Regions from separate parts of the Homo sapiens genome. Here all the other regions are linked to region 1. The links come from fine-mapping of genetic effects on gene expression. A gene starts in region 1. Each other region holds a variant in brackets. All regions are shown on one strand. Distances are between the middles of the regions.

What was found. PIP is the estimated chance that this variant, and not a neighbour inherited with it, causes the effect.
Region 2: its variant is the best candidate, but not a certain one, in a credible set for the expression of C1GALT1 in anterior cingulate cortex (GTEx, PIP 0.72).
Region 3: its variant is the best candidate, but not a certain one, in a credible set for the expression of C1GALT1 in whole blood (INTERVAL, PIP 0.69).
Region 4: its variant is the best candidate, but not a certain one, in a credible set for the expression of C1GALT1 in T cells (TOPMed, PIP 0.71).
Region 5: its variant is the best candidate, but not a certain one, in a credible set for the expression of C1GALT1 in whole blood (INTERVAL, PIP 0.57).
Region 6: its variant is the best candidate, but not a certain one, in a credible set for the expression of C1GALT1 in testis (GTEx, PIP 0.53).

The regions. Positions count from the first base shown.
Region 1 is chr7:7,180,197-7,185,401 of GRCh38, reverse strand. C1GALT1 (core 1 synthase, glycoprotein-N-acetylgalactosamine 3-beta-galactosyltransferase 1) reads right to left here and starts at 2,858. Exons shown (of 4, transcript NM_020156.5): 1 at 2,582-2,858. RefSeq lists silencers at 2,069-2,288, 2,509-3,118.
Region 2 is chr7:7,237,507-7,242,142 of GRCh38, reverse strand. C1GALT1 (core 1 synthase, glycoprotein-N-acetylgalactosamine 3-beta-galactosyltransferase 1) reads right to left here. Exons shown (of 4, transcript NM_020156.5): 3 at 3,221-3,888. Among named protein-coding and RNA genes, the nearest start is that of LINC03016, 15 kb to the left of the region's middle. The variant AGG/G (reference allele first, on the strand shown) is at 2,399.
Region 3 is chr7:7,226,094-7,231,298 of GRCh38, reverse strand. The region is part of intron 1 of C1GALT1 (core 1 synthase, glycoprotein-N-acetylgalactosamine 3-beta-galactosyltransferase 1); the gene reads right to left. Among named protein-coding and RNA genes, the nearest start is that of LINC03016, 26 kb to the left of the region's middle. The variant A/T (reference allele first, on the strand shown) is at 2,411.
Region 4 is chr7:7,156,504-7,161,708 of GRCh38, reverse strand. It overlaps a transcript of C1GALT1 not described here. Among named protein-coding and RNA genes, the nearest start is that of C1GALT1, 23 kb to the left of the region's middle. The variant C/T (reference allele first, on the strand shown) is at 2,346.
Region 5 is chr7:7,264,876-7,270,080 of GRCh38, reverse strand. LINC03016 (long intergenic non-protein coding RNA 3016) reads right to left here. Exons shown (of 4, transcript NR_108073.1): 3 at 2,639-2,844. Among named protein-coding and RNA genes, the nearest start is that of LINC03016, 12 kb to the right of the region's middle. The variant A/G (reference allele first, on the strand shown) is at 2,937.
Region 6 is chr7:7,140,434-7,145,638 of GRCh38, reverse strand. No RefSeq gene overlaps it. Among named protein-coding and RNA genes, the nearest start is that of C1GALT1, 40 kb to the left of the region's middle. The variant A/G (reference allele first, on the strand shown) is at 2,182.

The DNA.
Region 1 (5,205 bases):
TATTTTGTTACCGCAGCCCTAGAAAATACAATGACCAAGAATGCAAATAACTATGCCAAGCTGTATTTAATTTCAAATTCTGCCTATTATCCAACATCTAGCCGTTTAAATGTGCTTTAATATACAGGTTTCCCATTCCAGAATCTCCCTAATATTGCCTCTCGTTGCCCCCAACACGCCCCTTCAATGTGCAAGGCAGCACATACTACAGGTGCTAGATAATTTATTTAGACTTTCCTTTCAGTTTCCCCCACCTTCTTATGTGCTTCCCTAAATCACAAACACCAGTTTCTTTATATATTTTTTTTCTCCCTCTTCCTATTCTCACATATTACAGATTTTGGCATATATATTCCCCTTGGACATTTGAATTAGCTGCAAAATAATTTAAGTACACATTGGAGTTCCTCTCTAACCAGATTTTAAGATAAAAGGCTAACTTCTCATTTTATGGAACAAGTCTCCTTCCCGCTCCCCACCTTTCTTCTTTTAAAAGAATGACTTAATCCCACTGAATTTGAAGTAAAAAGATTTTTGTCATACCTTTCTTTCAGCCTTGCTATAGTTTGTACATCAGCGTCTTTAATCAAATCTTAAGAAATCTTCTAAAAGAAAAGATGGTTGTATTGGGAAGCTTAAACTTTTAAGCCTATCTGAATTTAATTTCAGCATCAAGCTTTCCATTTTCTACTTAAGGTTTATTTATAGCTGCACTGTCACAAAAATTCCAATCAATGATTTTACCACACAAAGACTCTAAATTACCATGGCTTATAATGTTAAACTGCATAATGCAATTTTAATTTTAGCACAAATCAATACACAAATAGTAGCATGTGCCTAGTGACATACTTTTTCATATTTCTATTAGGTAAACAAGAACTCATTATGTGTACCCTGAAATAAATTTGTGATACAATTTTAAGAATAACTGGATATTGAATTTACTCAACGTAGTCTAGTCTTAAAAAGCATAATTATGAAAAACTTTAAATAGGAAACACAAAATATTTCTAAAATGCTTAATCCTAAGTAGGAAGATACAAAAAAATACACATTCCAGGCAAATTTGAGAGGCATTTAGTAGCTCTCCACTAATACTGAAAAATTATTCTCTTTATGAAGAATTTTAAATGAGTCATACTTTCCTTACTAAGTCATTGTTTCACTTACCATAAGGTGAAGAGTTAACTGTTTGCTAACTTGAAACTTTATATTCACTTAAACTGTACATCTATATATAAAGACTGGTAGAAAGTATAGTGTACTATATACAATATTTAGAACATACAGCATCATGGGCATTAAGCTCAACTGCCATTTACCTAAGAGGGTGAAAAGCTGTCATCTAAATACCTTCTAAAAACTCGGATTCCAACTTCCCAAACTCACACCAGAATGAAGCAACTTGAAATTATGCGCACTTTTTCCTGGCAGAGCTATGTTCTATGCCCAACTTTTAGTAAGTTAACATATTTCTCTCCCTTACACATCGGCCAATTATTCATTGATTCATTATGGTTCTAAATTTATAACTTTTAAATTCATAATGAAATCAATCCATGGTTAGCACAATAGTTTTCTATCTTAAAAAAGCGTTAAAAGGAAATACAGTAGTATGTACAATGGATATAGAGAACTAGGTTAGAAATCTTGAGAATTTTTCCAGGATGTGTGGGTTTTTTGTTGCTGATACTGTTGTTTGCTTTAAATGCGGGGTGGTGGGGGGTGGGGAGACGGTAAGGACCAGGAAAGAATAAATCCACAGCGCTAAATTATGGTCATCTTTTAAGAGTGTACGACTTACCCAAATTCAAAGCAAATGGACAACTTGTCAACACCTACTAATTCCATCACAATTTGTTGGGGAAAAATGGGGTGCAGAAGCAAAAAAAAAAAATTTAATGCCTTTCTTCCTCCTCCATGCCCCGAATGCCCCAACACACACGTATCTGCTTCACTCTGCGGCAGGGAAACTTAAAGAAATAAATCAGCTACAGACAAACCTGATGATCCAAGCTAGACCCAAGCAAGCTCCAGGCACCTCTGGAAGGAGCCCGCTCGCTGGGCGCTCAGGCGGCGCGGCAGCCGAGTGGCTCCCCGGCGAAGGTGCCCAACACCTGGGCGCCCAGTCCGGCGGGACCCACAGGTCTGCGGCGGGGCGGGGAGGGCCCGGGAGGAGGGACTGGGAGGGCCCGGCGGGGCAGGACCGCTAAGTGGTCCGGTCCGGGCGCACTGCGCGCCCCGCCGCGCCGCCAGGCAGCGCGCGAGCAGAAGAGGGGCGCGAGCGGGCACAAGGGAAGGACCCACGACGAAGAGGAGGGTACATGTCCACAAAATTGAGGCCGGGTACGCAGCCGAACGCTGTGGCAGATCGCTAAGGCTCCGGGAGCGGGAAGTCCTCGCGCCTTCCTCAGGAGCCCGGACGACCCCAGCCCGGCTTTGACCCCGAGACACCTGTTCCGCCGCGCCCGGGGTTTGGTTCCATCCTCCACGCTTCCCCACCAACCCGGAGAGGGGGGAGGGCGAGGGGAGACGAGACCTTGGACCCGTAGCCTGAGGGCGCCTCCGCCGGCCATACCTGACATCAGCTGCGGCTCCCTCTCGCCCCTCCTGGGGGGCGGAGAGGGGGACGACTTGGGACTGGTGACCTTTGCTTCTCTGGGCAGCCGCAGAAGTGGCTCGTGGCCGCTAGCCGAGGCCGCCCGCTGCCGCCCAGATTATTCCCCGGCAGCGGCAGCACAGCGGCGGCGGCCAAGGCGGGCCCAGCGCGCGCTCCCGCCCGCTCGCTCCGCCCCTCCCCGCAGCGCGTCCAGGCCGTGGCCCGCCTATGGCGCAGCCGCCACCCGAAGTCTCCTGGCGCTGACGTCTCCGCCGCCGCACCAGCCCCAGGGAAGGGCGGAGCGGGAGGGGCGGTGGGCGGGGATACGGCGACGTGAGGAAGCGGGGATTGGCTGCCGGGTGCACGCTCCGCCCTAATGCGAAGGGGTCTGGGAAGTCGGATCTTGCACGAGCAGTAGATTTTGTTGTATCCCCCTTGCGGCTTGTGTCTGCTACTCTCCGCATTTCTGATCCTGCTGTAAGGTTATGCACTAGCTTCAAGACCTTGAGCGGGACGAAAGCAGGGTAACAATAGGGAGCGAGAAAGGGGATGCTTGAAGGACCTTTGTCTGAGGTACAGGCTCTAACCCTGCAGGACTCTTGTGGCCTGTAGCCTGCTCTTAACCCGTTCATTTGTTTTTCTGTTCTCTCCCCGTGCTCTCTTTACTCAGTATCTCTCTGGGCTTAATAAAAGGAAGTAATAAGATGAAGTATGCATACGGGTGCTGGGTCATCATGTGAGAACCAGGAAGAGCTGAGAACCGAGATAATGATACCAGAAAGCTTTCTATAGGCACATTTCGTCTTTGGTTCTGTCAGCACTTCGGTTCTGTGGGGCAATGGCCGGAAGAGCTTCTTAGGGGCGTAACAAAACCTATCTCCCCTTTCGCTGGGCTCTGAATAAGGAAGTTGTCTTTGGAATAGGGGGAGGAGGCTGCCACCTGTTGAGGCAACCCCACAATAGTCATGAGGTGAGGGTAAGGTTTAGTCTTTACTGGCGTTAACCATTATCTACAAGACCACGTTCCAGAATAGGAAAGCTACCCTGCTTCCTTTAAATGCCCTATCCAAGCGGTTCTTTAGTACTCTACAGCATGGTTGTTAAAGAGTATGGGCTCTGAAATCAGACTGCCCGGGCTGGCATCTTGGTCCCTCCACCTATTGGCAAGTTACTTAGAATGCCTGAGACAAATAATAATATACATTAGTTATTGTTATTTTTCCTTTAATTTGCTTAGGTTCAGCTGTAGTGTAGTTTCTCAGGACATTGCATCAATATATCCAAAAGAATTGTGAAACATAAAGCACATGTAGTGATTCTAATACAGATGTCTCATTTTTCAGATGACAAAACTAAGGCCAGAAAGATAAACTGATAGGTCCATGTTAGAAGAGAAGTGCAGCTATCCTGATGTCCAGGTTATTGCTCTTTCCTTGGCTCATGGGTCCAGACTTCTCTGCCTTACATGATTACGTCCATTCTCTACTCCTCCCCAACTTGTATACAGTTGTTGCTCAGCCTCCTCCCCCTCCACCTTTCCGCAATATCCTTCCACCTTTCCGCAATATCCTTCCACCTTTCCGCAACATCCTTCCACCTTTCCGCAATGTCTTGCCATCCATTGTGAAACATGGAAGGAGAACTCTTTCAGGGGTCAGTGTTCCAAATAGAAACCAAAACTCACAACTCCTTATCTCGTTTTAATTTTATTAAAAGTTATAATTAATAAAGAATAACACTTTTTTCCATTGAGCAAAGATTAGAACCCTTTCCTAAAATAAGGTCAGCCACAGCCTTATCCTGGAAAATTACTTGCTAGAAACAATACTGGACCAAATCAGCCCTGCCCCCACCCTGCCTTTCTTTGAAAATAGCTTTTTTTTTTTTTTGAAGAGATATGGTCTTTCTATGTTGCCCAGGCTGGAATGCAGTGGCTATTCACAGGTGTGATCTTGGCACACAACAGCCTCGAATAACTGGGCTGAAGGCTGAAGCAATCTTCCCGCCTTAGCCTCCCCAGTAGTTGGGATTACAGGCACAGGCTGTGGCACCCAGCTAATAACTATTGTTTTATAAAAACAATACATGCTTATGCAAACAAATTTAAAAAATTTAAACAAAAATGCAAAGAAGTTAAAATCTGTCCAAATACCATAATATAGAGATAACCATTTCTTAAATTTTGTGTTACATTCTTCTAGGCATCTCTCTAAGAATAAAAGCACATATAGACATATAAATACAATATTTCATAAATTGGATCGTATTATCTGCACAGTGAACAACAGTCATGAATAACATCATTTTTAAAAGTTGCATACTGTCTGTTAAATGGATATACCATCATTTATCCAACCAGTATTCTATTGATTGACATTTATGTTTCCAAGTTTTTACTACCATAAAAAAAGTCTCTGATGAACATTCTTATCCATAGGCTTTTGCACAATTGTGCAATTATCTCCTTGAACACATTCCTAGAAGTGACATTAATGTCAGCCAATTCTTCGACATTTTCAATTAGAGAATAAAAATTGTGGTTACTTTGAAAAATATACTTTATATGTGGGACTCAAAACTGACCAGATTCTCCCATTTGAAAC
Region 2 (4,636 bases), 57 kb before region 1:
ATTAATGAAACCTTTCTTGAAATTAGGTGTGTATTTTATTTACAGCATATCTCAATTTGGACTAGCCACATTTCAAGTGCTCAATAACCACACATACTTAGTGGCTACTATACTGTCCAGTGCATATTAAACTTAAGGACTAGACCAGTAATAGTTATAAATTGCTGACCTCTGGAAGCAATTTTTATATTCTGTAAAATAATATTTTTGATAAGATTTACTGCATTAATTATATTGCTCTTATTTATTTATATTTTACTGGATGGCCAGGATTCTGTTAAGCATTTATGCAATAAAAGACAATAAAAGTAAAAAGCTATAATTATTAGAAAACAAGAGCTAGCAGACAATTATGGTTACCCAAAAAAACTCAAGAATCTCAAGTGAAGAATCATCAGAAATAGAGAATTCAGTTACAAAGCCAGATTTTAAAGATGCTTAAAAAGAAAATCAAACAAATAAGTTTTCATATATATCAGTAAAAAGTTAAGTCTTTAAAAGCCCAAGTAGAACAGTAACAAAAATATTGCATACCTATGGAAATAGTTTATAAAACTTGACCAAAGGACCTAAAAGGTGACTTACAAAAAATCCTGGGCAAAGATGTTATTGTCCCTAAATTAATGAGTTTGTATGCAAAGATAAAGAAATGAGTTGCCAAAACACTTAGAAAAAAAGAAGAGTTAATTTGCCCTTAGAATAGTAACTTAAAACTGCTGTAAAGCTACAAGGTTCAAAACAATATGGTGCTGGGCCAAAATCAAATGAGAACAATGGCATAGAAATGAAATCCCAGATTTAGATCCTACTATAAGTAAGGTTACAGTGTATGATAAGGGGGACATTTTAAATCAGTAATGAGTTAAAAAATGGTAGTAGAATAATTAGTTAACAATTTAAAAAAATCAGGAGCTCTCTACCTCACTTATGTACTAATATGTTTCAGATAGAATAATGTAAATAAAACTGAATAAAGTAGATCATATTTGACCATTTCTGACCTACAGAAAAGTCAATTTTTCATGTAGAGAGATATATATGTAAACAATTACACATATATTTTAAATCTACCATATTAAGACTCACTGCAACTTCTCTGGTGAAAAGTCTATTACTAAGAAGGTGGAGTGGGAAGGGAACTGCTTAAGAGTCAGTTCTGAACAAGAAATTTAGGAATGTAACTCTTTCATGAATTAGAATATCTTTTACCCTGACTTGCTAGATAAAAATTTTCTGTATTTTCAGTAATTAGTATATAGAAAAAAAAAGTATGTATAAGATTTAAACTCATTTAGGGGGAAGAAAACTTACTAAATGATAGATGGATAATAATAGAATTTTAGTTTCACGTTGGGTTTATGTAAGAATCTCCTGAGGGAGAACAGGCAATGTCAGATTGATGGGTCAATTTTGGTACTCTGAATTCTAATTCTGTTTTATGGTCTTCAACATAATTTGATAAATTTCTAGAGAAAGAACAAATTTGCCAATTATGATGTCCCTTTGCTACTACTGTATGTGTATCCAACATCAGATACTCTTAGTAAGATCTTATATGCATTTGGATGTATTTGCTACATGTTTATATTCTTGAATTTGGGTAAATTTTTTATATGGGAAAAGGATACAGAATTAAGGAAAAAAGATCAAGTCATCTTGGAATGGTCAAAATATATTAAGAAAAGTTTACATCAAAAAAGCATCCAAAGTAGTACTCTCACTAAAATAGAAAAACAGACTATCAAAAGTTTCCTTTTAAAGCTGATTACCTAAAGCTTGGGTCAGATGTTCTAGGCCAGGGTCTCTGAACCATGGTACTACTGACATTTTGGGCTAGAGTAATTCTTTGTTGTAGGAGGCTGTCCTGTGCATTTTAGGATGTTTAGCATTTAGTAGGTTTATAATGTAGTGGGTTTCTACCCATTAGATGCCAGTAGCAGCCTCCTAGCTGTAACAACCAAAAATGTCTCCAGACCTTGCCAAATGTCCTCTGGGGGCAAAATTGCCCTGGGTTGAGAATCACTGTTCCAGATGATGATTTGAAAGCATTGCCTTATGAAGATGACAGTAGTAGCATGAAGTGTATTATTTATACGTTAGGTCCACAGAAAAGAAGGCATAGAGAACTAGTGACTTGCCTAAAGGCATTATTAGTAACAGAACTGAGCCTAAAAGCTAGGTTCCATGATTCCTGGTCTCATTCAGTTATTCACTGAAGCAATGCTTATAATAGTGAACACAGCAGACATGTAATTAACATTGATAAATCTCAATGTTGTGTGAAAAGGGCAAGTTGTAGAAAGATATTTATTTAAAAATCTGAAAAACAATACTATAGCATTTTCTTCTTTAAATAACTGAAACAAATGTGGCAAAAAGATTAATATTTGGTAAAGAC[AGG/G]GGATAAGTACAATGTATATTCTGAAATATTTGTACTACTGGAATACTTCCTAAAATAATGCACTTTAGATAAAATTCTCAGGAATGTGAGCCAAGGCTTATTAAATGCTTACTGTGTGAAGGGCTGTACTATGTTGTAATTACAACAACTAAATAAGACAGGTACATTATGTCCATCTTACAAATGAGGAAACTGAAGCTCAGATGTCATCCAAGGCTCCTGTCCATCCAAGGTTGTTCGGCTATTAAGTGAGAGAGCAGGATTTGACTCTAGGTCTTTCTGAACCTCCATTAAATCCTCCTGATGACTAGAAGGCTCTTTACCCAGATCTTCACCCAACTTGCTCTCTAATAACACTCAGGGTTCTGCTCAAAAGTCACCTCTTTGAGAGGCCTTCTTAATCACCCAAACCAGAGGACTCCATCCCACTCTGGGTCACTCTCCATCCCCTTACTTGGCTTATTTTTCTTCAGGGCACTTACTACTAAAATCCTATTTTATATTTACAAGTCTGCCTGTTTACTGTATATCTCCTCATCCAGAATGTAAGGTTCACGAGAACTGGAAATTGGCTGTGATTTACTTCTACATTCTCAGTGCCTGGCATATAACAGCATCAATAGCTATTTGCTAAGTGACTACTGCTGATTGCTGATGTCCCTGTTCTCATCTATTTTGTTATACTGCCACTCTATTTAAAAAGACTAAGGAAGAGTCCTTGTTGTTGGTACTAAAGAAACATACACATATTAACATGTTTTTATCAACAAAATTCAGTCAGTCCAAGTATTGACATAGTAATAAAATTTCTAAACTTACCTCTACAGGAGGATAATAGTTGTAATTCCAGTACCAAAACGTTCTAGGTAGATAACCTTTAATTAAATGGTGTTCTGGCACAAAGGGATGAAAAGTTTCTTTTCCAATGGTATCTCTGGAATCTCCTGCTTCTACATTCATAATTTCCATGCATCTCCCCAGTGCTAAGTCTTCAATGGAGGAACTATGTGTACACTTGTCTGTTTTAAATGCATCAACAAATCTTTTCAAGGCTTCTTTGCTTAGTACATATCCTGCTCCTCCACTCATGTAGCCCTGCTTTACATAAGGCTTAAATCTTCTCCCAAAGTAAATGGGTTCTTCAGGGTCGTATTTTGAAAGAAGCCACCTCAAATTGTCTAGTATGACATACGTGTCATCATCTGCTTTCAAAAACCAATCAGCATCTTCTAAATAATGTTCATGAACATACTGAAAAGCTTTAATTGTTTTCCAGTATAGTTGATCTCTGCCTTCTTTGGTTTTCAGTCCCACAGCAGGGAAGTCTTTATTTTCTTCTGAACTCATAAACAACACTTTGTTACAACGCTGGGCCCAAGTAGCTTTGACGTGTTTGGCCTTTTTCTCTAGGTTTTGAGGGCCGGTCATAACCCAGCAAAGAATTCTAACTTTCTGATAGAGGTTTTCAGCAATGTCTGTGTTCTCATCTATTAAACAAAACATTTTAAAAGGTTATTTACATAGATGTAAAATCCAAATATTAATAAATTATACTGAAGAAAGCACTGTCCTAATTTCAAAGTCCCTATTTATCCCTCTATTAGTGATTTAGCCAAAGGAAAGCAAACTCATCCTAATGTGAACTGACACTCTGATTTATTGGTTTCATGTCAGTGTTATCTAGGACATCACTGGAGCTAGTAAGAGTTGACATTATAATCTAAATTCGTCTCAAACTGTAGTTTACTGATTAAAAGCAGCAGCATCACCTGGGAGCCTGTTAGAAATGCATAATCTTAGGCCCAGACCTACTGACTCAGAATCAGCATTTTAATAAGTTCTCCTGGTGCTTCATAGGCATGCTAAATGCTGCCTTAAATAGTCTCTGCTTGGCACTTCATAAAAGAAAGCAGCCAGTTTTTAATAGATTACTGACAGAAATTTCTCACTGCTCTGAACGAGTTTCTGAAGAGCAGGAAAGACATGCTGCTGAAGTGGCAGTTCATTTTTGAAGTTCACAATAATCCACTATTAAGAATTTCTACAAGTACCCTGAGGTGGTAAAAGGTCAAAGCACAGGAGTTGAGATTACTTTCTGATAGTCACATACCTCATTCCAAAATGTAAATCCACCAATCAAAAACAGAAGAGAACAATGGTAGACATGGGAATTCCAAGATGGTCTAGAGCAGTGCTCTTTAAACTACAGGTTTGCAAAGAAATAAGGAGCTTATA
Region 3 (5,205 bases), 46 kb before region 1:
AATGTTACCTAAGTACATCAGTCAAACTACTGAAAACCAAGGACAGAAAAAAAAACTTCAAAGGTGTAATAAGATTGACAGCTGACTTTTTAGCAGCAACAACAGAATCAAGACTGCAGTGAACTATTTTTAAAGTGCTAAAAGAACAGAACTACCAACCTAGCATTCTGTATCCAGCAAAAATGTCCTTCAAGAATGAGCCTTAAAAACATGTTCAGAAAAACAAAACCTAAGTGAATTTATCACTAACAGTTCTATTTCTAATTCTTCAGGCAGAAGGAAAAGAATTTCAGATAAAAATTCAGAGATGTAGGAAGGAAGGGAGAGTCATAAAAAGGGTATGTATGTAAGTAAATCCAAATAAATATTGGCTATAATAAAACATTTTTTGAAAGTCTCACAAGATATTAGTATTATTACCATTAAAACAAATTACAAAACTGGCATCAAAAAGTATAAGGAGGATCCATAGAGTTTAAGAGCTCTAAAGTCATTTCACTGTCCAGGAGTTGTTTAAAAAAAAAAAACTGATTAATAATAGCCTTTAAAAGACCAAGGATGTCTAATATAATCTTTAAACAAACAAACAGTAAAACAATATAATTAAATTCAAATACAAAAAAATGAAATGGGAAAATACCCCAAATCAAGGCAATGTTAAAAAAAAAAAAAAAAAGGGAATATAGAATAGATGAGACAAATAGAAAATAAATAGTAAGGTGGTTGATTTAGAACCAAACATATCAATGATTATATTAAAAGCAAATAGACTAAAAACTACAATTAAAAAATAAAGATTGCCAGCCAGACTCGAGAAAAATAAACTCATCTACATGCAGCTTACAAGAGACACATATTAAATAGATTTATAAAGTTGAAAGCAAAATAATAGAAAAATATACCATACAAACAGTAATTAAAGGAAAGCTTATTGATACCACAAAAAAAACTAGTAGTTACATGGCTTGTTCTCTGTGACATTCATTAAGCTCTACATTTATGATTTTACATACTTTTCTGTATTAACATTTATTTCAGTAAAAAGTGTATACAAAAACCCATTCATGTGTCTTTATCCCATTAAGTACATACTTAATATATTCATATTTGATATAAAAATATCCCAAAATCTACAAGTAAAATTGACATGCCATGACAACACACCATGCTTATGCTGCATTATATATCTTATATTTCAGGCTCTCTCCTGAATTGTAATTCCAGTTTGGGAAGAAAAACCCTAAGAGGAAGAGGAGAGGTGAAGGAACAGCACAGTATAAGCAAAGCTGCCCAGTATCTTGAGATGTAAATTAACCATCTGAAACTATCAGATACATGTTTACACCTTTTGCTCTATCCTGACTGTACCTTCAAGTTCAGAAAGGTAGGCCTTCATGGATGATGAGTACATAGCCCCACTCAACGATCCTTCTCTCTACACCCAATCAAATTTGCCACAGGAAAACCAGAAACAAGTTTACCATGTCTTTCTGCTGTTTTCTCTGATGAGGGGGTCTCAAATTCTGCCTCCCTACTGCCCCCTTTCCCTCATTCAGGTTGGCCGTTAGTGTAATCTTTATATCCAAAAGATACAATAAAACATATCCCTCCTGTCTTAAGTGATTGTTCTGAAATTCTAAATATCTCGATTGTCTGAGGACCAGTTCATTAGACCTTGCTCTAACCAGAAATCTTGGTTTGAAATTTCATTCAAACAGCCAGAGAGAACTGATTAGTCAAGTATCTGTTCGATATTATACAAGTCCTTCCTTTAGCAGTATACATGATCAAGACAATCTACAATAGAGGTATGTGATATGAAAGTACCATGAATTGAAAACATGAAGCCAAGAGAAGTAAATGAAAGATGTTTTAACTCTTAATTTCTTATGGAGGAAGACAAGCAGAATACGATTGAAGCAGTGAACCTGGAGCATTAGCAGATACTGAGTTGTCACTCTCTACATCCTCTGATTCTCTCACTAACACTTTGCCTTACAGCACACTGATCTTGGTTTTCCATTGCTTTTTGTCCTAGCTGTGATTTTGCCTTAATACCATACACAGCCACTTCACCATCTCAGAAAAGAACAAAGACAGTATTTTACTGCTGCAGAGTCTACCGCTCCTGGCACTGGAGAAGAAAGCAGTAGTCACAATGCCATTCAGTACCACTTAGGCAGAAAGCACTGTGACTGAGAAGAGGAAGGACTGCAGGACCAGAGAAAATTCCTATTTCTATCATCATATGGATATCTGAAGTTAAAGAAGTGCTAACCCAGCTCCATCAACTATGAATACTAACATGCTACTCAATCATATTCCAAGGACATGCTGAGCTTCAGAACAAGCCTACTTCTATAACACAAAAACAGTTACTGTTTGTGGAAAGCTACTGAAGTACTTATGG[A/T]CACAGTTTTTCTTAGCTGAAGAGGCACTTTTTAAGCAAGGCATCTATCCTGGAGTGAATGTAAGGAAAACTGACTTCTTGGTGTTACGTAATTGTTTTTAACTTTAAAATGTTTTGTGATGCTGTCTGATGCCTGTCATACTCTCTTACTCTTCTCCCCCAGAGTATCAGCACACTCAGAATGTGTTGGCTCCTCTTGTGTTGTGTTTACCACATTCCCTTCCAATTTAAAGGACTCCGGCCTTATGACTAAATAACTGTAAACTCCCATTTTTTTTTTTCCTGCTCCTGGGATAAAATAGCCATCTCATGGGGGTAGAATGCATCCCAAAGCTCACTCAGATTTTTGGCAAAAATCATGTCCACAAGAGTGTTGAGGTAGACTAGACTGGAAAAAGACACAGCTTAACCACACTGCACATTATGAGGGCTTAAATACTATTTCTTTGAATTGGGTGGGGGAAGTTCTTTATGCCAAGTGCTTCCAAACCTGATGTGTAATCAGAATCGCTTGAGGATATTTTAAAAGTACAGATTTCCAAGCTTGACAACTGAGGTTTCAGATACAAAAGAACTCCCGGGACAACTAAAATTTATATTTTAATTTTATTTTTAAAGGGACAGCTTTATGCTATTCATTGTTAAAAAAGGATTTAGAAGGAAGAAATCATCACAAGTCCTACTACCCAGAAACAACAATTATTAATATTTTGTGATTATCATTACAGGTTTCTCTCTAGCAATAACAAAAATAGGAGAGGTAATTACAGTTAACATTTGAACCCTGTACTAAGAGCATCTGCAAACTATAAAGTACGGACTAGTATTCCCATTTACAGATGAATTCAGACACAGAGAGTCACACTAGCAATCTGAATCAGGAATTCAGACTCTTAACCACTTTGCTATTATGTCTTAGTCCATTTTCTGGTATTTATAACAGAACAACTGAAACTGGGTAATTTATAAAGAGAAAGCATTTATTTCTTACAGTTACGGAGGCTAGAAAGTCCAAGGCCAAAGGGGGCACATCTGGTAAGAGCCTTCTTGCTGTTGAGGACTCTCCTCTGAAGAGTCTTGAGGTGGCACAGAGCATCACATGGCATGAGGGATACGCATGCTAACGTGTTAGCTTAGGTTTGTTCCTCTTCCCTTTTTTTTTTTTTTTTGAGACGGAGTCTCGCTCTGTTGCCCAGGCTGGAGTGCAGTGGCGGGATCTCGGCTCACTGCAAGCTCCGCCTCCCGGGTTCACGCCATTCTCCTGCCTCAGCCTCCCAAGTAGCTGGGACTACAGGCGCCCGCCACTACGCCCGGCTAATTTTTTGTGTTTTTAGTAGAGACGGGGTTTCACCGTTTTAGCCGGGATGGTCTCGATCTCCCGACCTCGTGATCCGCCCGCCTCGGCCTCCCAAAGTGCTGGGATTACAGGCGTGAGCCACCGCGCCCGGCCTTCCCTTTCTTTATAAAGCCAAAACAGTTCCCTTCCCATGATAACCCATTAAGTTATTAACCCATTAATGGATTAAACCATTCATGAGGGCAGAGGTCTGTCTCATAAACCAATCACTTCCTTAAAGGCCTTGTTAATATTGCCAAACTGGGAATTAAATTTCAACATGAGTTTTAGAGGGGACAAATATTCAAACCATAACCCTACAGTTTTACAGAATGGGAATTATATTAGTCATCTCGTTTTTAAAGAATTAACATATTAGATTTATTTGAATTTATAGGAAATAAAGGAATCTAAAAAATCTGAATGTCACCTAGACATCTGTAATATGACCCCCATCCTCTAAAGGATCCCTCTAAAAATTAAGAAAAGTTTACAAAAAAACAGAAAGGAGTTGGAGGGCTCATTAAATAAGCTCAATTTTAGGCACTATCTATTGATTTCTTGCTGTGAAATGTGGAAATCAGCATGGATACACACATGTACAAATATATATATACACATATACATACACACACACTCCCTCTGCCACAACCAATTTTTGTTAACTGCTTTTATTTGGTAAAAATGTACATAGTTTACATTATATGAATTATGAACTGTAATTCCATGACTGCTTAATCCTGGATCTACATTAAACTAGATTCCATGCTCAACAAGAGTCCTTTTTAATCACAACTCCTCTAAATTTGAGTTTTTCATTAATATCATGTTTTTGTTAGCTGGGTTTCAGCAAGCAGTTTTTTTTAATGGCGCTAATCGGTGCCACATCTGAAATTCTTGCAGGCTTCAGAATGTCTGCTATTGCACAAACTTTCTTCTCCCTAAGAACTTTGTAAATATTACTCCATGGTCTTCTTACATGGGTGCCAGAGAATTCTGAGGATACAGCCTTTAACCTCTTCTCTTATGCTTGGTTTTCAGCCACTCCACCAGTTCAAGAATATTCTTTCACCAAGATTTTAATGCCCTTTACCATGAGCGCACGTCTTCTTCCTTTCAGGCTTTCGGGAAGTCAGTGAGTGTAATTCACAATAAAGCCCTGAAATTCTAGTTATTTTTTTTTTTAAATTTTAACACTTTATACCACATTTTGCCAAGGTGACAATCAGGTACTTCTAATTTTGCTCTGGATTATGGCATTCATTTGCTGCATTTATGTATTCAAAATATATTCCCTCTTCTAACCATATTAAAATAATTTTTGATACATCTTTATATTTTCCCAAAAGATTTTCCTTATGAAAGTGATATAAATCTTACAGTCACACACCTTACATTTACAAATATAGTACATGTGAGGTACCATGTTAGAAATTTTTATGTTTTTTTCTGATGCTCA
Region 4 (5,205 bases), 24 kb after region 1:
TATTTTAATCCTGGCTCTACTATTTACTAACTACTATCTACTATTTTCTGAGCCTCATGGTCCTCAACTTTGTAAAAGGAAGATGATGATGCCTGTCTTTTCTAGTGGTTGTGCTGGTTAAAGGGGAGGATGTTTGCAAAGGGTCTAACATGTAGTAAGTATTCAATAAATGGTAGTTATTTTTATCAGCAACTCTTATAATAAAAAGTGGACTGACAAAAATTTTAAAACTAAGTATCTTTTTAACAAGTACTTCATTTATTGCCACATTTTTTAGTCCCTTGGCAACAAATTTTGGCTAGCAAATGTAAAGTTATTCACTGTAAATATGTTTATACTAAAATGTTAGTGATTTTCATCCAAGGGGCAATTACCTTTAAAGTAAAGAAGTTAGACTAAGTGAGTTGTAAGGTTTTTTTTCCCACTGTTAAAGCCTCACAAGTTTATAGATTTGGATGATCTCCCCAAAATAGAAGCAAACGTTTCTGAGAATTTGAGTCTGTCTTTGGTAAGGATGGTTACATGTCAATAGAGCTATGGTTCCAAGTCCTCTTGACAAGTAGTTTACTTGCAAACTATTCAGTTTGTCTTAGTCTGTCATATCATTGTGCAAAATACATGTCAGTACACAAGTAGTCAGTAATTTTGTGTAGTAATGACTACACAAGTAGTCATTATTATAAACTGGAAGTTACTGCCTATTATTCTGTCTTAGATTTCAGTTGCATAAATTCTATTTAAGTTGATTGTAAATTATGGCTCATTGTTTTCTCTCAATACTCATTACTTCTGCTGATTAGTACTGTGTTTGTGTGTATAGTTCTAAGGTTTTTTTCAGCTATAGTTCCAAGTCCTCTTGACCAGTAGTCTACTGGCAAATAATTCAGACAGCTTTCCCTCTGTCATCTGTTAACATTAGTCCTGGGGACTGGTTTCTCTGATAAAATTCCTGCAGCTACTTCATACCTTTGGACATGTACTTCGACACACGCCCTCTATTTCATCTTTTGTGTACCCAGGAATGAGTTGCATGTATGTGTCCATCCTTTGGAACCAACCTTACTTCTGTCTTGAACTGAACTTGACTTCTCTTTTACTGAATGGATTTAGGTTAGCAGACACATAGACAATTTTTATTTTCCTCCCCTTCTAAATATCTGTCTCTGCATCTATCTTCCTACTTCCTAAGAAGAGCAGTGTAGCCTCCTTTCTCATGAGAAACAGGGTAACATTTTGTCTTCCCGCCTGTTCTACATCAACTGCTTAATATATGTATTAGAACACTGTCAATCAAGGTAACATTATCTGTCCCCTTGTACATCAGACTTTTGTCAAGGATATACCTGATTAGTCAAATGGCAGGGATTAGGGGTTGGAGGTAGAAGGTGGAGGTTCAAGAGAGAAATAACACTCTATACAGTTGAAGACCAAAAAGATCTAGATGGAAGGTAAAGGTCATATGCAGAAATGGAATAGAAAGAATTTTCCAGAGTTGAGAAGAAACAGATCTCTAGTTCCATGAGGCTATTGGAACGTGTACCCAATATAAAATGTGGAAAGGTACTAGGGACAAGAAGGACACACATGTGGGGCAGGAAAGAGCTGAGGGAAAGAGTAAGAATCAGGAAATTTAACTAGTTTTACTTATGTATGAACAGCCGTTCACAGTGTTGCTGCCATTGATCTTTGAAGTGCAGACATATCCCTCAATTTATGAACATGGATTGGTGCAAAGCTCCCTAGGATGTGAGAAAGGAAATGAAAAGAGATGCTGTGCTCCAGTTTACCAAGCTCGGAGCTGATAGCTGAAAGGCCAGTTCCCTTTTCTTCCATTACATGTTAAGTATGTTTTTATGAACTGTAGTGATACTCTGTGTAACAGTGTTTCTATAGGAAAATGCCCTCTTTGAATTGAATCACATTAAAATGAATTTTTTGAATATAGCTTACATGGAGACAGAGAATTTTTTTAACTTTGCTAACATTATCTAAAGATTGCAGATAAAGAAAATCTACGTGTAAAAATAGTGACTTTCCAAAGGCATTACTATCAAATTAAGCGAAAATTAGAATTCATACACCTTCATTTAGTCTGTAAGAGTCCTGTTTCTATTGAGCCTCTGGGGAACCTTTTGCCTTGAAGAGATTATTGGGGAAAGGGGACAAGAAGGAAGGAAACAAATCAGCGCAGTCCAACACACCACTTTCTTTCCTTTCTCTTTCTCTTCCGCTTTGCATTTCTATTTCTGTTCCACTCTATTTCCTCCTCCCCCTCCTCTTCCTGTTTTCTTTCTTTCCTTCTTTTTCTTTGCTTCCTAGTCTTTTACTGCTCTTGGTATTTGTCC[C/T]GCGTCTTTCCAATCTCTTCCTTTTTATTTTTTAGTTCTACTTTTTATATCTGACCCTCCTAGTAGAGAAAAGGTGGTCAATATTACAGTCGTTCAAAAATAAAAATTAAGTACTTAACTCTTTCTGGCTCTGTGCCAAGCATTGTAAAAAGAAAATTACATAGACAGTTTCTGACCTCCAAAAGCATACAATCATTTGAGTCCCAGCTGTGATTTTATAACACCTTCATGATTCTTGACTTTTTTTTCCTGTTTCTAAGTCCCATTAAAAATCTGGTGATAGCAATGAATTGCTTCACTCCAAAAATGCATAAGTCACAAACATGCCCTATTTGCATATAATTTCAGAAGATTCAAAAACTCCCTGAACCCCTTAATAGTTTATGACCGCCCTCAGATCAAGAACCCTGCTCGTTGTCTCAATATATTTCACAAATGTCACACAGTTTGAGATAGAATGCCTTAAAACACAGTTAATTTTAATTCATTAAGAAAATCAATAGGCCGTCTAACAGCCATTTTGTGTGTTTGGGTAGGCAAAAAGGGAAAGAAATGTTATCTAATTACAAGTAGGTCATAACATTATCCAAAAGGAACAAACACTTATTTGACCACCTATTACATGTCATATATGCGTATATGAGTCCTACATGATACAGCTTTTATAAAATTATAGATGAAATATATATGTATATATACATATACATGCATACATATATAAATAGATACATGTGTATATACCTGTACATTTATACAAATGTTTATATAATATATAAATATATAAAAATGTATGTGTATATAATATGTAAAATATAATGAAAAAACATACTAAGTGTTTACAATAGCTATGTTATATAGGAATCGTTATACTCAGATATGGAAATTAAGACTCAGAGAGATCAAACAGCTGACTCGGGCCACGTGCTAGTGAACAGTAGAATCAGAATTTGAGTCCACATCAAACTCCAATGCCTTCTTGGAGACTTATTTTTCCTTTCTATTCAACATAAAACTCAGCACATAGGAGGTGTTAATGGAATACTGGAATGCTGATTGAATTAGACAGAACAGAGTCAGGTATAGAGCCCTGCAGTAGATCACTGGAGACTAGAGACCACTCTTCCTAACCCCACCCTAACCTCCCATTTAATTTCTTTTCTTTAGCAGAAAGGAAGGGACATTCTAACAGGTTCTAAAGACTAGAGTGGACTCTACAAAACTTCAGAGGGATATAGTAATTTTACTGTATTCATCAGAGAAATATTTCAGCTGTGGTCATGTGAGGGTAACAGGCTTGAATACACCAATTTTCATGTGAAAGGAATGTACTGCTAAGTTAATGCAACAGCAACTTGAGGAAACTACTTTTGATTTAGCAAGTTATCTGAACATTAAAGGAGGCATTCTGACTGAGGTTCCTGAAATATAAAGAACAATTTGAAACATGCCTGGGAGGAAAATACAGCAATTTTAGCAAAAAGACAGTTCTCAAATAAAGTCTGATTTTAAAGGAAAAGAGATCTCATTGATTGAAGGAATTGTTCAGAATGTACATGTACATACCCTTACTGAGGCTAGCTAATGAAGAAACTGAAATTTGAAGTTTGGTGGTAAAGAAAATGAAAGCAATATAAGAATGTTGGCAACTGTGAGATAGAGGTTGATTATACTTCAAAAGAGTATCTTTAGGGAAGCTAATAGACACCTAACTAAGTTGAACAGAAACTATATTGAAATAAATATAATCTTAGAAGCCAGTCAAGACAGTAGAGCAACACGGAATCAGTGCCTTGATTGATAGATTCATGATTTAAAAATAAACCCATCTTGACTTCAAGTCAGGGCAAGGTTATGGTGTACAGTTTCTTAATTTCCCCAAATCCATTCCTAAAAGCATACTGAACCAACTAGAATAGCAAAAGATAAGTTCTACTCACCACATCCTCCAGAAAGCCAACTGAAAAAACATCCCCATGAGCCTCAGAATGCCAGTGGGTTTTGCCCCACCCAAACCACAGACAACAGCAGTAGAACTCATACAGAGCATGCCTAGTTTTAGCAGCTGTGCAGAGGCAGTGGACAGGAGAGAACAAGAGTTTAGAAGGTTCTGCGAACACTGCAATACAGAAATTGTCCACAAATACTCAAAAAGAGAAGGTCTTACCTTGAGTGGGATTCTCAGCAAGTAAATATTGTGAAAATAACAGTAAAAAGGAGAAGGCTTCTGACTCCAATTTATGGCTGAGTAGAATAAAAATATCTCAGCCACACACTAAGAGAAAATGGGAAGATCAGAAGGTACTGGGTGGCTTATGTACTCAAATAACTCAGAAATAGCCAATAAAATATCTTTCCTGAGGAAAACACTTCCGTGAAGAAAATTCAAATTGAGCAGGATAGAAACTCTGAGAGTAAATCCAATATTTTGACGACCTTACAATGCCTTTGTTGTTTGTTGAGAGAAAAAGATCAAACACTGGGAGGTCAGGTGGGTCTCCAGAGAAGGCACATCTCTGGAAGTGGGTGTGACGACACAAAGGCCATCCACGTCTACATGTGTATCTTAATCTGTCTGCTATGTGATAATAATAGGGGAGGAATCTCTTAAGCACTGAAACTATAAAGGCTATCATAGCATATCCCATTTCCCTTCAAGGGAGGCATTTCCTAAAAGTACAGAACACCTGATTTTGTTTATACAAAAGCAACAGAAAGGAGATGGTCGAACACAAAACAAGTACACTATTATAAAGAAAATAAACTAAATAATGAAAAAATGGGTAGTTAATATGTACCAGAAAAGACATAATTTAAAAAAATGAAAACTAAATAATATAACAAAATTAATGGAAGCAAATTA
Region 5 (5,205 bases), 85 kb before region 1:
ATCTCCTTTCAATGCAGTTAAAGAAAAAATTTCAGTGCCACCAGATTCACCCATCACAGGGGCTACTTTTCCTAGGCATATGAATTTTCCACTTGATCAGATGTTGGTATCCAGGGTTTTTCAAGTCACGCAAAGTCACATGTCCGCAATGCTCGGCTGTGATCAAATCCCTCCCTTGTATGTTCATGATAATAAGTATATCTTCTCACATTAAAAAATATTTAATGGGCCGGGTGAGGTGGCTCATGCCTGTAATCCCAGCACTTTGGGAGGCCAAGGCAGGTGGATCACGAGGCCAGGAGTTCGAGACCAGCCTGACCAACATGGTGAAACCGCATCTCTACTAAAAATAGAAAAATTAGCTGGGTGTGGTGGTATGTGCCTGTAATCCCAGCTACTCAGGAGGCTGAGGCAGTAGAATCGCTTGCACCCGGGAGGCAGAGGTTGCAGTGAGCAAAGATCGCGCCACTGTACTCCAGCCTGGGTGACAGAGCGAGACTCCGTCTGAAAAAAAAAAAAAAAAAAAAAAAAAAAAAAAATTTAATATCAGAGTTTCAATGTTTGAAGTAACAAGGTACACAGTTCATTCACACGGCAGTCAGCGCGTTCCATCCCTACTTGCCAATGTAAGAGTGAAGCTGGAAACACCACAGGAGTTACTGGGGAATAAGAGGCTGTCAGTCCCCACAGTGTAAGGAGCCTTCTGGGATCTTGCAGTTGCCATTGGTTGAACACCCCCTCATATGTTCAAAGCCTTGTGCTGCAGGCTATGGACAGCCCTGCGTGAAGCACACAGCTGGGTTTCCCCATCAAGGAGCAAAGAAGCCCCCAGTTCTCTGAGACTCACCATCTATATAGTGTGAGGAATAAACAAAACTTGTGGTTGGGAAATAGAATAATGTTATATTTTCCCATAAATTCTTCCAAAAGTGAATTGCCACTTGCAACTCAGCAGGAAAAATGTCAGTATTAGTGTTGGGCAAGGGACTAATCCAGATTCAATAAAAAGTCTTCATTATAAGACATTTCCTCTCAGGTGAATAACTAGTCCTTTTCATGTTGGAACAGTTACAGAAACTGAATTTTTTTAGTTTATAAAAATTTTGCCTTAAGGTAAGCAACACCTGTTTAGTGAATCTTGAAAAAATAGTCTTTTATTTATTTATATATTTAATGAAATGCCAATTCTTTTTGCAAAGCAAACTGGGATATGAAGATAAAAGGGTAAAAAAAAAAGTTCTTTGATGCATTGTCATAGTGAATGCATATTGAATCTCTCTATATTAGTGACTGTGCAGTATATAATATGCAATATCAGTTACACATCTCCATCTGAAGGAAATTAAATCCTAATTATACAAGAGGAACCCACAAAGTTCACTTTTTCCTTTTAAATGGCAGAATGTTGTTCACTGAGAGGAAATAGTTACTTCTCTGTTCCATGTAATTTTCATAGAACAGATGTGTCTGAGGCTGGTTTTTAAAGAGTGTAGCAGGCATTGTTGGGAATAAATCTGGGGAAAAGTGCACAGGACTAAATTTGGAGAGAGCTGCTTAGCCCTGTGACCTTTACAAAACTATGTCACTGTTCTGTGTTTTGTCTGAGAAAATGAGCTAGCGATAATATCCCAGGTGCCTCACAAGACACACATTCCTAAAGGTAAGGGGTCTTCTGGGTCTTCTGGGATCTTGTAGTTGACATTGGTTGAATACTACCTATGTTCAAAGCATTGTGCTGCAGGCTATGGGTAAGCCAATGAACAAAAGGGACCCAGCTACTGTCCTTAGGGAGCCCACACACAACTTTCTATGCATGGAATCACTTCCAAAATGAGAACTATCAGAGATGACTCAGGGTTATGGTAAAGGTAAAAGACACACTAAATGGAAAATCTGGAAGCTTCTTTAGACAAACAGATTGTGTCTCTATATATATCTAGATTATTAAAGTGTGCTCTGATACAGAGTTAACATATTTCTGAAAAGTTGTGTAAACTGATTGTGGTGAGCATTTTCAGAAACCCCCGAGCTCCCATCCCATCCTTTGTCCTTTGGAATTAATGTGAAAAATGAGCACTATCTTGGCTTTCCTTTCTCTTCTCCCATTTCTCCCCATATACCTATTATTTCTGATTTATTTGTATAATAAATACGGGCTTTAAAGATTGGGTTTTTTTTTTTTTCTTAACAAAAAGCTTGTAGACATGTTTTCTTCAAGTTATTTTCTTAGTTATTATTTTCTGCTATGTCTAATACCAATATTGCCGCAGGGAGTGTGTAAAAAGGGAGGAATGCAGATGTTTTTCTATTTGTTTTTACTATCATAGAGTGGAAAAAACATGGACCAGTTAGAAGCAGCTTCATCACTATCTGTGTAGGTGACCCTAGAATGTGGGTGACTTAGACTTCAGTGCACAAAGAATTGGATGGTTGTTAATGCAAATAACCCAGTCCTCAACACCAGAAATTCTTTCTTGCGTTTAAAAGTAGTCCTGTACACAGTTAGAAATGCTTTCAGCTACAAGTAGTAAAACAGTAAATAATAATATTTCACATAATAAATCTCTTAATAATGGTTCTAGGGTTGATGCACCTCAACAATGTCATCAGTGTCCCTGGTTCTTTCTTTTTGTCCTACCTTCTCAACATGTTAGCATTTCATCCAGTCATCTCAACTTATGGCCACAGATAACTGCTGCTCCCGGTGACACAGTCTCTCACATGCTCAAGGAATGGCACCAGACAGCTCTCCTGTGTACTTTTATCTTTTTTCAGAAGCAAAAGCTTTCCCAAGAACTCCCCACTCCTGGTGGAGTCTCCTTATATGTTTCTGGCTGATTCTAGCTGCAGAGAGATGGGAAATGTATTAGGGTTCTCCAGAGAAACCAGTAGGATGGAGATATATATAAAGAAAATAAGATTTAATATGATAAATT[A/G]GTCATGCAGTTATGAAGGCTAAGAAGTAAGTCCCACAATCTGCCATCTGCAAGCTGGAGACCCAAGAAAGCAGGTGGTGGTGTTATAAGAAAGGGGTCCTGATCCAGACCCCAAGAGAGTGTTCTTGGATCTCCCACAAGAAAGAATTTGGGGCAAGTCCATAGAGTAAAGTGAAAGCAAGTAAGTTATTAAGAAAGTAAAGAAATAAAGAATGGCTACTCCATAAGCAGAGCAGCAGCATGGGCTGCTCTGCTGCTTATACTTATTGTGGCTTCTTGATTATATGCTAAACAAGGGATGGATTATTCATGAGTTTTCTGGGAAAGGGGTGGGCAATTCCCAGAACTGACGGTTTCTCCCCTTTTTAGACCATATAGGGTGAATTCCTGACATTGCCATGGCATCTATAAACTGTCACGTCCCTGGTAGGAGTGTCTTTAGCATGCTAATGCATTATAATTGGCATATAATGAGCAGTGAGGACGACCAGAGGTCACTCTTGTCGTCATCTTGGTTCTGGTCGGTTTTGCCCAGTTTCTTTACTGTGACCTATTTTATCAGCAAGATCTTTATGACCTGTATCTTGTGCTGACCTCTTATCTTATCCTGTGACTTAGAACACCTAACCTCCTGGGAATGCGGCCCAGCAGGTCTCAGCCTTATTTTACCTAGCCCCTATGCAAGATGGAGTCACTCTGGTTCAAATGCCTCTGACAGTGTAATTCAGTCCAAGTCCAAAGGCCTGAGAACCAGAGGAGTTGATGGTGTAAATCCCAGTCTAAGGACTAGAGATGATGAGATGACCCAGGTCAAGGGGTGAGGCAGGAAAAAGAGGGCAAATTCCTCCTTCCTCCACCTTTTGTTCTATTGAGACCCTCAGTAGATTAGATGATGCCTACCCATGTCGGGGAGGGCAACCTACTAAGTCTGTTGATTCAAATGCTAATGTTATTTGGGAACACTCTCACAGAGACGCTTGGAAATAATATTTAATCTGGGAACCCCATGGCCAGTCAAGTTGCTCCACGAAATTAACCTTCACAGGATGGTATTGGGAAAGAGAAATGTGATAACATGACTAGAGCTGAAAATTGAGAACCCCCTCTGGCCAGGCACGTAGCCATCTGAGCACACCTGAGGTCCTGCTGTAAGTGAAGTAGCAGAGGATGGCTGTTAGGGACACAACATCAGCGGTTACCACCACCCTGAGGGCAACTGATGCTGGTGTCCATTAACCACACTTTATACCACTGGTTGCCAAACATCTGGGTTAAATCAGAATCATCCAAGAGCTTTAATAAGTGCAAGAGGTCTGGGCCTCCCTGATTCAGTGGGTCAGGGTTGAGGCCTCAGCATCCTGACTCTCTAAAAGCTCATTAGCTTAAAAACAAAACAAAGCAAAATAAACAAAACTCAGGTGATGCGGTGATTCTGGTGCACAGCTGGGATTGAGAACTTACTGGTCCAATCATTTAATTTCTCCGAACAGCAGTTAGAAGCCCATGGAGATAACACTGGGATAATAATAGTGTTCGTCCCAGAGGGTAGGTGTGAGGTATAAATGGTTTGGTATACATAAAGTTGAAGCTCAAGCCGGCACATAATAGTTTTGGATCTCAGTCCGCCTTCCCCTTATGCCAGATGCCAGATGGTTTTAGAGGCAGATTCCAGTTTCTTCCAAAGAAAGTGTTTTTTCAAAAATAGTGACAAGTAGACTTGTTTGTCTTGGCTACTGTACTAGTTCCCTATTGCTGCAGCAACAAATTACCACAAACTTAGCAGCTTAAAATGACACCAGTTCATCATCTCACGCTTTTGTAGGTTACAACTCCAGGCAGGCTAGGTTGGGTTCTATACTCAAGAGTCTCACAGGCCAAAGTCAAAGTGTTGTCAGGGCTTTTCCCTGGAGGCTTGGGTAAGAATCCACTTCCAAGCTCATTGAGAATATTGGCAGAATTCCACCCTTGTGGTTTTAAGACTGAAGTCCCTGCTTTCTTGCTGGATGTCAGCTGGGGTCCTCTCTGCTCCTAGAGGCCATCCACATTCCTTCTCATATGGTCCCCTCGATGTTCAAAGCAGCAACTCTTTAACTTCCTCTTCTGCCCCTCTTTGGAAAAGCTAATTTTACAGGCTTATGCGATTACACTAGGCCCGTGCAGGCAATCTCCTTATTTTAAGGTTAATTGTACCTTATAACATAATCATAGAAGTGATATCTCAATCTTCACAGGTTCTGAGGATTAGGATGGGACGTCCCTCAGGGCATTT
Region 6 (5,205 bases), 40 kb after region 1:
CTGGTTGGACAGTGGGTGCAGCCCACAGAGGCGAGCCGAAGCAGAGCGGGGCATCACCTCACCTGGGAAGCACAAGGGGTTGGGGGATTTCCCTTTCCTAGCCAAGGGAAGCCGTGACAGACTCTACCGGGAAAATTGGACACTGCCACCCAAATACTGCACTTTTCCAATGGTCTTAGCAAATGGCACACCAGGAGATTATATCCTGTGCCTGGTTCAGTGGGTCCCACACCCACAGAGCCTTGCTCACTGCTAGCACAGCAGTCTGAGATGAAACTGCAAGGAGGCAGCCTGGCTGGGGGAGGGGCAGCCACCATTGCTGAGGATTGAATAGGTAAACAAAGCAGCTGGAAAGCTCGAACTGGGTGGAGCCCACTGCAGCTCAACAAGGCCTACCTGCCTCTGTAGACTCCACCTCTGGGGCAGGGCATAGCTGAAAAAAAGACAGCAGAAACTTCTGCAGACTTAAACGTCCCTGTCTGACAGCTCTGAAGAGAGCAGTGCTTCTCTCAGCACAGTGTTTGAGCTCTGAGAATGGACAGACTGCATCCTCAAGTGGGTCCCTGAACCCTGTATAGCCTAACTGGGAGACACCTCCCAGTAAGGGCTGACTGACACCTCATACAGCCAAGTGCCCCTCACAGACAAAGCTTCCAGAGGAAGGATCAGGCAGCAATATTTGCTGTCCTGCAATATTGCTGTTCTGTGGCCTCTGCTGATGATACCCAGGCAAACAGGGTCTGGAGTGGACCTCCAGCATACTCCAACAGACGTGCAGCTGAGGGACGTGACTGTTAGAAGGAAAACTAACAAACAGAAAGGAATAGCATCAACATCAACAAAAAGGACATCTGCACCGAAACCCCATTTGTAGGTCACCATCATCAAAGACCAAAGGTAGATAAAACCACAAAGATGGGGAGAATCCAGAGCAGAAAAGCTGAAAATTCTAAAAACCAGAGCACCTCTTTTCCTCCAAAGGATCGCAGCTCCTCACCAGCAATGGAACAAAGCTGGATGGAGAATGACTTTGACGAATTTACAGAATTAAGCTTCAGAAGGTCGGTAATAACAAACTTCTCCAAGCTAAAGGAGGATGCTTGAACCCATTGCAAGGAAGCTAAAAACCTTGAAAAAAGATTAGACAAATGGCTAACTAGAATAAACAGTATGGAGAAGTCCTTAAATGACCTGATGGAGCTGAAAACAATGGCACGAGAACTATGTGATGTAGGCATAAGCTTCAGTAGTTGATTTGATCAAGTGGATGAAAGGGTATCAGTGATTGAGATCAAATTAATGAAATGAAGTGAGAAGAGAAGTTTAGAGAAAAACAAGTAAAAAGAAATGAAAAAAGCCTCCAAGAAATATGGGACTATGTGAAAAGACCAAATCTATGTTTGATTGGTGTACCTGAAAGTGACAGGGAGAATGGAACCATGCTGGAAAACACTTTTCAGGATATTATCCAGGAGAACTTCTCCAACCTAGCAAGGCAGGCCAATATTCAAATACAGGAAATACAGAGAACATCACAAAGATACTTCTTGAGAAGAGCAACCCCAAGACACATAATTGTCAGATTCACCAAGGTTGAAATGAAGGAAAAAATGTTAAAGACAGCCAGAGAGAAAGGTCAGGTTACCCACAAAGGGAAGCCCATCAGACTAACAGCAGATCTCTTGGCAGCAACCCTACAAGCCAAAAGAGAGTGGGGGACAATATTCTACATTCTTAAAGAAAACTATTTTCAATCCAGAATTTCATATCCAGCCAAACTAAGCTTCATAAGTGAAGGAGAAATAAAATCCTTTACACACAAGCAAATGCTGAGAGATTTTGTCATCACTAGGCCTCCTTACAAGAGCTCCTGAAGGAAGCACTAAACATGGAAAGGAACAACCAGTACCAGCCACTGCAAAAAAGCCCAGTTGTAAAGACCATCAATGCTAGGAAGAAACTGCATCAACTAATGGGTAAAATAACCAGCTAACATCATAATGACAGGATCAAATTCACACATAACAATATTAACCTTAAATGTAAATGGGCTAAATTCTCCAATTAAAAGACACAGACTGACAAATTAGATAAAGAGTCAAGACCCATCAGCGTGCTGTATTCTGGAGACCCATCTCACATGCAGAGACACACATAGGCTGAAAATAAAGGGATGGAGAA[A/G]GATCTACCAAGCAAAAAGAAAGCAAAAAAAAAAAAAAAAAAAAAAAAGCAGGGGTTGCAATCCTAGTTTCCGATAAAACAGACTTTAAACCAACAAAGATCCAAAGAGACAAAGAAGGCCATTACATAATGGTAAAGGGATCAATTCAACAAGAAGAGCTAACTATCCTAAATATATATGCACCCAATACAGGAGCACCCAGATTCATAAAGCAAGTCCTTAGAGACCTACAAAGAGACTTAGATGCCCACACAATAATAATAGCAGACTTTAACACCCCACTGTTAATATTAGACAGATCAATGAGACAGAAGGTTAACAGGGATATCCAGGACTTGAACTCAGCTCTGCACCAAGTGGACCTAATAGACATCTACAGAACTCTCCACCCCAAATCAACAGAATATACATTCTTCTCAGCACCACATCACACTTATTCCAAAACTTACCACATAGTTGGAAGTAAAGCACTCCTCAGCAAATGTAAAAGAACAGAAGTCACAACAAACTGTCTCTCAGACCACAGTGCAATGAAATTAGAACTCAGGATTAAGAAACTCACTCAAAACCGCACAACTACATGGAAACTGAACAACCTGCTCCTGAATGACTACTGGGTAAATAATGAAATGAAGGCAGAGATAAAGATGTTCTTTGAAACCAATGAGAAAAAAGACACAACGTACCAGAATGTCTGGGACACATTTAAAGCAGTGTGTAGAGGGAAATTTATAGGACTAAATGCCCATAAGAGAAAGCAGGAAAGATCTAAAATTGACACCCTAACATCACAGTTAAAAGAACTAGAGAAGCAAGAGCAAACAAATTCAAAAGCTAGCAGAAGTCAAAAAATAGGTAAGATCAGAGCAGAACTGAAGGAGATAGAGAGAGAAAAAACTCCTCAAAAAAATCAATCAATCCAGGAGCTGGTTTTTTGAAAAGATCAACAAAATTAATAGACCACTAGCAAGACTAATAAAGAAGAGAGAAGAATCAAATAGAGGCAATAAAAAGTGATAATGGGGATATCACCACTGATCTCACAGAAATAGAAACTACCATCAGAGAATATTATAAACACCTCTACACAAATAAACTAGAAAATCTAGAAGAAATGGATAAATTCCTGGACACATACACCCTCCCAAGACTAAACCAGGAAGAAGTTGAATCTCTGAATAGACCAATAACAGGCTCTGAAATTGAGGCAATAATTAATAGCCTATGAACCAAAACAAGTCCAGGACCAGATGGATTCACTGCCGAATTCTACCAGAGGTACAAAAAGGAGCTGAAACTATTCCAATCAATAGAAACAGAGGGAATCCTCCCTAACTCATTTTATGAGGCCAGCATCATCCTGATACCAAAGCCTGGCAGAGACACAACAAAGAAAGAGAATTTTAGACCAATATCCCTGATGAACATCGATGTGAAAATCCTCAATAAAATACTGACAAACTGAATCCAGCAGCACATCAAAAAGCTTATCCACCAAGATCAAGTTGGCTTCATCCCTGGGATGCAAGCCTGGTTCAACATATGCAAATTAATAAACGTAATCCATCACATAAACAGAACCAAAGACAAAAACCACATGATTATCTCAATAGATGCAGAAAAGGCCTTCGACAAAATTCAACAGCCCTTCATGCTAAAAAAACTCTCAATAAACTAGGTATTGATGGAACATATCTCAAAATAATAAGAGATATTTATGACAAACCCACAGCCAATATCACACTGAATGGGCAAAAACTGGAAGCATTCCCTTTGAAAATTGGCACAAGACAGGGATGTCCTCTCTCACCACTCCTATTCAACATAGTGTTGGAAGTTCTGGCCAGGGCAATCAGGCAAGAGAAAGAAAAAAAGGGTATTCAATTAGGAAAAGAGGAAGTCAAATTGTCCCTGTTTGCAAATGACATGATTGTATATTTAGAAACCCCCATTCTCTCAGCCCAAAATCTCCTTAAGCTGATAAGCAACTTCAGCAAAGTCTCAGGATACAAAATCAATGTGCAAAAATCACAAGCATTCCTATACACCAATAACAGACAAACAGAGAGCTAAATCATGAGTGAACTCCCATTCACAATTGCTTCAAAGAGAATAAAATACCTAGGAATCCAACTTACAAGGGATGTGAAGGACCTCTTCAAGGAGAACTAGAAACCACTCCTCAGCAATATAAAAGAAGACACAAACAAATGGAAGAACATTCCATGCTCATGGATAGGAAGAATCAATATCGTGAAAATGGATGTGCTGTCCAATGTAATTTATAGATTCAATGCCATCCCCATCAAGCCTACCAATGACTTTCTTCACAGAATTGGAAAAAACTTTAAAGTTCATATGGAACCAAAAAAGAGCCCGCATCGCCAAGACAATCCTAAGCCAAAAGAACAAAGCTAGAGGCATCACACTACCTGACTTCAAACTATACTGCAAGGCTACATTAACGAAAACATCATGGTACTGGTACCACAACAGAGATATAGACCAAGGGAACAGAACAGAGGCCTCAGAAATAACATCACACATCTACAACTATCTGATCTTTGACAAACCTGACAAAAACAAGAAATGGGGAAAGGATTCTCTATTTAATAAATGATGCTGGGAAAACTGGCTAGCCATATGTAGAAAGCTGAAACTGGATCCCTTCCTTACACCTTATACAAAAATTAATTCAAGATGGATTAAGGACTTAAATGTTAGACCTAAAACCAGAAAAACCCTAGAAGAAAACCTAGGCAATACCATTCAGGCCATAGGCATGGGCAAGGACTTCATGACTAAAACACCAAAAGCAATGGCAACAAAAGTCAAAATAGACAAATGGGATCTAATTAAACTCAAGAGCTTCTGCACAGTGAAAGAAACTACCATCAGAGTGAACAGGCAACCTACAGAATGGGAGAAAATGTTTGCAATCTACCCATCTGACAAAGGGCTAATATCCAGAATCTACAAAGAACTTAAACAAATGTACAAGAAAAAAATCAAACAACCCCATC